Linked DNA regions of Homo sapiens. The protein of the gene in region 1 purifies or fractionates together with the protein of each later gene. This does not show direct contact. Each region holds a gene or a part of one and is shown on either strand. Other genes may lie near its edges. The genes, in order: CBLL1 and ACSL4.

What was found.
Region 2: the proteins of CBLL1 (region 1) and ACSL4 purify together in Homo sapiens (affinity purification with western blotting; one study listed by BioGRID). This does not show direct contact.

What each region holds. Positions count from the first base shown.
Region 1 is NC_000007.14:107,746,930-107,750,753, reverse strand, and holds part of CBLL1 (E3 ubiquitin-protein ligase Hakai), read right to left. Parts: exon of another isoform or gene 3,258-3,824; intron 1,875-3,257; coding exon 1,707-1,874; intron 1-1,706. UniProt on the Homo sapiens protein: E3 ubiquitin-protein ligase that mediates ubiquitination of several tyrosine-phosphorylated Src substrates, including CDH1, CTTN and DOK1. Targets CDH1 for endocytosis and degradation.
Region 2 is NC_000023.11:109,684,723-109,688,546, reverse strand, and holds part of ACSL4 (long-chain-fatty-acid--CoA ligase 4), read left to right. Parts: intron 1-3,102; exon of another isoform or gene 3,103-3,120; intron 3,121-3,824. UniProt on the Homo sapiens protein: Catalyzes the conversion of long-chain fatty acids to their active form acyl-CoA for both synthesis of cellular lipids, and degradation via beta-oxidation. Preferentially activates arachidonate and eicosapentaenoate as substrates.

The DNA.
Region 1 (3,824 bases):
ATTTGGCCCACAGACATAGTTTGCTAACCTGTAATCAAGGGTAAGATGGAAAAACTCTTTTATACTGGTGAAATAGGGGAAGGCCTTTCAAATAATGTCACAAAACCCAGAAGTCATAAAAGCAAAGACCGGATATCTGACTATATAGAATCTTCAAGATTCTCTGCAATAACTATAATCCCAGCACTTTGGGAGGCCGATGCGGGCGGATCATGAGGTCAGGAGATCGAGACCATCCTGGCTAACACAGTGAAACCCCGTCTCCACTAAAAATACAAAAATTAGCTGGGCGTGGTGGCGGGCACCTGTAGTCCCAGCTACTCGGGAGGCTGAGGCAGGAGAATGGCATGAACCTGGGAGGCAGAGCTTGCAGTGAGCCGAGATCCCGCCACTGCACTCCAGCCTGGGTGACAGCGCAAGACTCTGTCTCAAAAAAAAAAAGATTCTCTGCAATAAATATTTTGTATACAAAATTCAAAAGACAAATGAAGAATATATACAATATAGGCCAGGCACAGTGGCTCACGCCTGTAATCCCAGCACCTTGGGAGGCTAAGGCAAGAGGACTGTTGAGTCCAGGAGTTCAAAACCAGCCTGGGCAACATAGCAAGACCCCATGACTACAAAAATTAAATATAAAAAATTAGCCAGGCAGGTGGGGTGCACCTGTAGTCCCAGCTCCTCAGGAGACTGAGGTGGAAAGATCACTTGAGCCTGGAATATCAAGCCATGATCCCACCACTGCATTCCAGCCCAGGCAACAGAGTAAGACTCAGTCTCAAAAAAACAAAAACAAACAAACAAACAAACAAAAAAATATATATACACACACGCACATACATAACATATAACAAAAACCCTATTAATTTACAAAGAACTCAGAAGAAAGGATCTAAACAAGAATGGTCAATGCTATGAAAAAATATACACTCTTTCATAATTAAAATAAATTTACATCAAAACAAAAATTTTAAAAGGTTTCTAGTACTCAGTATTGGTGTATGGCAGTAAAAACTAACATACCTTTTTATTATTATTTTTTTAATTCCAAAGCCTTTAAAACTACAAATTTGGATATTTTAAAACTTGACAGATACTGTGGATTTTAGAGTTTGACAAGTACTGTCAAATTGCTCTTAAAAAAAAAAAAAAGGCCAAATCTGTGCAAAGTACAAATTCTACAAAGTATACATACTAAACTGTATGTCCAAGAATATTTGGTGCAATGTTTTTTGTAACAGAAAAAACTGGAAAAACTGTTAAATAAATTATGGTATATCTATAAATACCCAAACCTATTTTTTTAATGAGGTACATCTGTAAGTACTGATAAGAAAAAAATCTCAAATGCATATTACATGAAAAAATGGCAACTACACATAAAAAATTAATACTTTTGTATAAAAAAGTCAACAGGGATTATCTTTGGATAGAAGGATTTTACTTTTAATGTTATGCTTTCTGCAATACTGTTGAGATTACTGAACAATGGGCAGTATTGCTTTCAACAACAAAAGGAACCAAATCAAAAAATATTTATAAAGGAAAATAAAAATACAATGTGCTACAATGAGAAGTCAAACAAGAAGGTTGAAGAATGAATAGAATATGTAAGACAAAAAGAGGTAGCTATAAGATCACACAGACTGTCCGAAGCAATCAGATAAAACAGAAAGAGTGTTGGACCTATTAGTTAAACAAATTACCTTCATCACCAGGTGGAGCCTTTGCAGGCATCCTGTTTATAGTTCTTTGAGTTCGCGGTGCAGGTTTCGCTTTGTTTGCTTGTTTGGAGATGAGCTTTATAGGAATTCGTCTGCGAACATCAAGACCACCCAAGGATCCAGAACTATTAGTGCCTTGTAACTCATTGTCTGTGTTAGGAAAAAAAAGTTGTAATTTCTTTTAGTTTTTCTTTTTAAAGATTATTCTGCCACAGGTATTAAAACACCATACCTAACATTATCAAGGTTAAAGATCTGGGTTCTGATTTTCAATATTACATTAAGTTTAACTGCTAATTTTATTTATTTTGGATCAACACTTAAGGCAATGCTTTTTAACCCCTTTTGAGATACAGAATCCTTTAAGAAATTGATAAAAGTTATAGGACCTCTCCCTAGAAAAGTGAATAAAATTTTTCATATAATTCCAGAGAAGTTTACAGAAACATGAAACCATTAATGAACCCAAGAACCATTGTCTTGAACTACAAGAGAATTTTTTAAAAGAAAAAGAGTAAGAAGGAGAAAAAGAACGAAAACCATCCCTGTCTCCATGTCTGATCATCAAGCATGCAAAGCAGAAAATAAATTTAGTAAACTGAACTTACTAATACTGATGAAGGCAAAATTAAACAATGCGTTTGAAAATGAAGTTAAGAAATGTGATTATTCCTTAAGCGCAAAATAATTATTCTAAAAATCATTCAGAAATATAGTAAAAATCATTATACCATTTAGTAGTAAAAACATGCAATAATGTATTTGTGCTATAACATGTGACTGAGTTCTTAGTCAGCACTGTAATGGAAAATTATAATTTAAGAGGATGCAAAGTTCCTATACTACAACTAGGTCTAAACAAGTGTCACTTTCTAGTCCCTGGAGTCTTTGCTTGTTATTGTCTATAGAATAAATTAATTCTTGTCCCATGAGTAACAGGAGTATTATTTCATAGAACTGACTCCATCTAAAGCTTAAGAGTTACCTTTTTTCAAGTAGATGAAAATATATAATACAGAAAATATTTAACTTGACCTACTAAAGAAGGAAAATGCTTAAAATAGGAAATACAAATAACGTATTTTTTAATTTGTAGTGTTTTAAACATGACAAGTTATTGAACAAGGTTGTATAACTGCCCCTGCAGGAAATATTACAGTCAAGACTGATAGCCAAACCATCCACATTAAATTCAGCAAAGCCAAATTTGGAAGTAGTAAGCTAGTACCAATGGCCTCCAAGGCTACTAGGATTACAGACACACAATAAGTTCACATTCATTTGCACTTTTTCTGAACAAAATACCAAACAAAATTAAAAATGGGTCCATAACGATTATTTTAATCTACTTACTACTCTTATAACAGCTAATCCTAAAACAAAGAGGGGTGGAATTACATGGTTAGCTAGAATCTTGAGTTAGGGTTAACCCAACTTGATCAGCTTTCAACACTTCATTAAATAGACTCACAAGCTGATTAATGTATTTGATCTGTTTTCATTGTAGTTGCTTATGTATGTAAAAGTACTTACAAGCAATGCATTGGCCAAAAGAAATATGAATGACTTTTTTCCTTGCTCAAAAAGTATTCCTGACATTCCAATGAACTAAAAAGCAAGTCGTTGTAGACATATAATCAGTTCAATGCTGTCCCTCAAATATTAAATATTCAAATATCAAAATGGTTTAATCGTTTTACCTTTGTGAATAATGAAAATACCAACACTTCATTACAAGTCCTTTTCACACCATCCTGAACACTTGAGGTCTCTACTGTTGCTTGCATAGTCTACCACTTTCAAGAGCTGGCTGGCCCTTCCCACTCTGCTTCACAGATTCAAGTTCATGAGGTACAGCATTTAATAATGATAACATTCTGGGTTTCTTTGGGACTTTTTTGCTTTTTGTTGTTTTTAAATTAAGAATCAGAGCATAAAGCACTATTTCCTTTTGAATACAGTAACAAATTATAAAGTCCTTAACAACAAAAATTTCTTAGATATTACATAGAAAGTGACTAAGGACTACTGGCCACTTCAGATAAATTCACTTTAAAAAGGCACAACACTTCCATATCATATAGTTTAAAAAAGATTGGG
Region 2 (3,824 bases), on another chromosome or scaffold:
GAGCCATAGACACCTCTTTCAAGGAGTGCCAAAGAGATAGAAAATAAATGGGCTATAGCTGAAAAGAAGATGCAAAGGAGGGAATGTTTTTTAAGATGAAAGAAATAACAGCTGGTTATGATGCTGAAGGGAATAGTTCAGAAGAGCAGGGAAAATTAATGAGGAAGGACGAGAGGGAAGAATTGGTAGAGTAGCACTTCCGTGTCCTTATAAAGACAGGGTGTAATGCATAAATGAAGGGGTTGGCCTCAGCTTGGAGCATCAACAGTTCATCCATAGTCACAGGAGAGAAAACAGCATGTGGCCACAGATTTGATTAGGTGGGTAGATGTAGCAGTGAGAGTCTGTGGAAATTATCTTTGGATTGTTGCTGTTTTGTCTGCAAAATAGGTCAGCTGCTGAGAATAAGTCTGGATGAGGAATGTTGGTGGTCTGAAGAGAGTAAAGTATGAAATCCAGAGGAGTGGGCCAGTGAGTGGACTAGTGCGGTGTGGTCTCTCTGCATCAGGGAGAGTCCATTTGAGGTAGCAATCACAAGTTTAAAGTGAGACACTCAACACAGTCATGTGTTTCTCACAGCAAATTCAGCTGCATAGGTACAGGTACAGATTAGGTGGAGAATTGGATAGGATAGAACCAGGCTGTGGTTGAGATGATTAAGTACAACCAAGTGAGACAACCAAGAGGGACTGAGTATGATTGCCTATGGAATTTAAGAGGAAGAAGACAAAGGTTTCTCACAAAAGCACTATAAAGTAGGTAATATAAGCAGTATTCCTGTTTTACAGATGAAGCCACTAATATAGAGCTTTCTTTTTTAAATCATACTTTAAATTCTGGGATACATGTGCAGAACGTGCAGGTTTGTTACATAGGTATACACGTGCCATGGTGGTTTGCTGCACCCATCAACCCATCATCTACGTTAGGTATTTCTCCTAATGCTATCCCTCCCCTAGCCCTCCATCCCCTGACAGGCCCCTGTGTGTGATGTAACCCTCCCTGTGTCCATGTTTTCTCATTGTTCAACTTCCACTTGTGAGTAAGAACATGCAGTGTTAAGTTTTCTGTTCCTGTGTTAGTTTGCTGAGAATGATGGTTTCCAGCTTCATCCATCTCCATGCAAAGGACATGAACTCATTGTTTTTTATGGCTGCATAGAACCACATTTTAAACCCAGATCTGTTAGCCTAGAAAATTTTTGTTGTTTCTCTTATGAGACATTATATTTTGCCTAATGATGGGTACGATGCTCAGCATCATACCCTTACCACCAACTCTTCTTTTTTTGAAGTGAAATGAAATGTTTAAATCTTTTTTGAAATGAATTTATCAATAGACTGAGTATAACCCCTGACAAGGAAGTATTATAGTTTAAGATGATAGGCAAAACTGGGCAGAGGCTGGCTAGTGTACTTGAAAGAGCACTGGGTGCTCGATTTGTGCTCTGCCATTCATTTGCTTCTCTGTAAGATGAGGGCTCAGACAATATCAGTGGTTCAAATATTCAGCTGAACTGGAAGTTCCAAGGAGTCCCTTCAGGGGCTGTCATAGCCTCCTCTACCAGAGCAGCTATGCTTTTTGCTTTCATCTACGCTTGTGTTTTTATATCTATATAAGATTTTATTCAAATGGATGACCCATGACCCCCTCACTACCTGCAGAAAGAATTTGAAAACCTCTAGACTAAATGATCTCTCTGGTTTCTTCTCACCTGAATGTTCTTTGAGCCTTGCCTACTGTGTGTGTGTGTGTGTGTGTGTGTGTGTGCATGCGTGTGTGTGTGTCTGTACTAAGCACTATGAGGATTACCTAGAAAGCATTTCTCTTTCTCTAAGACTTAAGGCAAATATGTATAAAAGATTAAATTTATGTAACATCAATAACTAAAAAACATACAATGCATTTTAAATCCAACTAAAGTACAGGCTCTTCAAAAGCTATTTTCTGTTTCTTTATATATTTTCAGCCTTAAGCCTGAAGATTTCTCAATTGAGGGTAAGGTGGTACTCACCCCTTAGGGGCATTTTATAAATCTGAAGACATGCTTTTATGTCTGCTAATATTGTCTCTGAGAATGTATGTATTGAAACAAGTATTTTGTTAAATTTTAAATTAGTTTCTTTATGGTACTCTTTTATATTACCAGTAAGAAATCATTTTTTAAAATGGTGTGTTGGTAGATTATGACTATCCTTTGATGTTGATGAAGAGGTATCACAAAATATTTGTCATAAGAAAGAGGTACTGGGTTTGATATGGTTGAGAACTACTGGTCCGTGTTCTATACTGTGGTACCCAGAAGTTTGGAAGTGATGGTAGTATAATCATGTATCAGATTGAGTGGTAGATATTGCTAATGATGTGTGAAATTAGAAAAAGTAAAGATTGTTCTGGACTTGGGTAGCCATGAAATCTTCAGTGGGAGGAGAGGATTGTTAGAGGGGATCTTACATTCAGCATTATGATAAACCCTTGACATGACATACCTTATCTTGAAGAAATGAATGACCAGACTTGTCCGAGAGACTAAGAAGGTACTTTCCAAGTAGGGTAAGTCATAGAATTTAAAGCTGGAAAGGCCCTAAGAATCACCTAGGCCAGACATTTTTAGTTCAGGGTTGTTGCCCTTTGAAGTTCATGGATGGATTTCAAGGAACTTGTGAATCACTTGACATTGTGTGTATCATTTAGCATGTCTTTCTGAGGGGAATTGGGTTCCTCGTTCTCATTCTCAAAAAGGCCCATCATCTCTAAGAGGTTAAGGCCTGCTGATCTAGTGTGGTCCCAGACTGAGGTAGATGGTTTGCTCAAGGTTACACAGCCAGTTAGGGGCAGAGATGAGGATTGACACCCAGTGACTTCCAGTTTCTTTCTCATTTCACTGTACTCAACTAAATTACATGAACAAAGGCACAGGCAGGATTAAGCTACCATTTTATATTAGATGGTATAAAAACAATCAACTAGCCTGGGGTCAATTGAATTAAGTCTGTCAGTCTGTTTCTACAAAAGTTGCAGAAGGATGGGCTTCAGTTTGTCTCTTCAAAGTGAACTAATATTTTGATTTTTCTGGTTGAAATATGCTACAACTCACCGAAGTAGCTTTCTCAGTTGAAGGTAAGCTCCTTAAAAAATGTTCCTATTCTTGGGCCGGGTGTGGTGGCCCCCGCCTGTAATCCCAGCACTTTGGGAGGCCATTGAGGGCAGATAGCTTGAGTCCAGGATTTTGAGAACAGCCTGAGCAACAATGGCAAAACCCCGTCTCTACAAAAAATGGAAAAAAACTAGCCAGGCATGGTGATGCACATCTGTGTTCCCAGCTACTCGGGAGGCTGAGGTGGGAGGATCTTTTGAGTCCGGGAGGCAGAGGTTGCAGTGAGCTGAGATCATGCCACTGCACTCTGGCCCGTGTGACAAAGTGAGACCTTGTCTCAAAAAAAAAAAAAAAAAAAAAAGAAAGAAAAGAAATATTACTATTCTTGAGCCTGTTTCTGCGGTTTCTTTCCAATGGCACTGTTTTTCTAACCTGCAGCAGCCCCCAGCTTTCCACATAATCCAATCAAAATTACTTTGCCTGATTTGTTAGATTTTGTAACTACCGTAGCGTATTTAGTCAAGCGTATTTAGCGTATTTAGTGTATGCTGTGCCCCAGTCAGACTAGTGTCCTTGCTATTGGTACTTCCTATTCTCCCAAAGTCCTTTCATTCCCACCTTCGTATCTTTTTTCATATGGTCCCTGAGCCTGGAATACCTTCCATTCCTCTTTCATTTCTAGATGCCCAACATAAGGTCCAGCTTAAATCTAATCTCCACAAAGCCT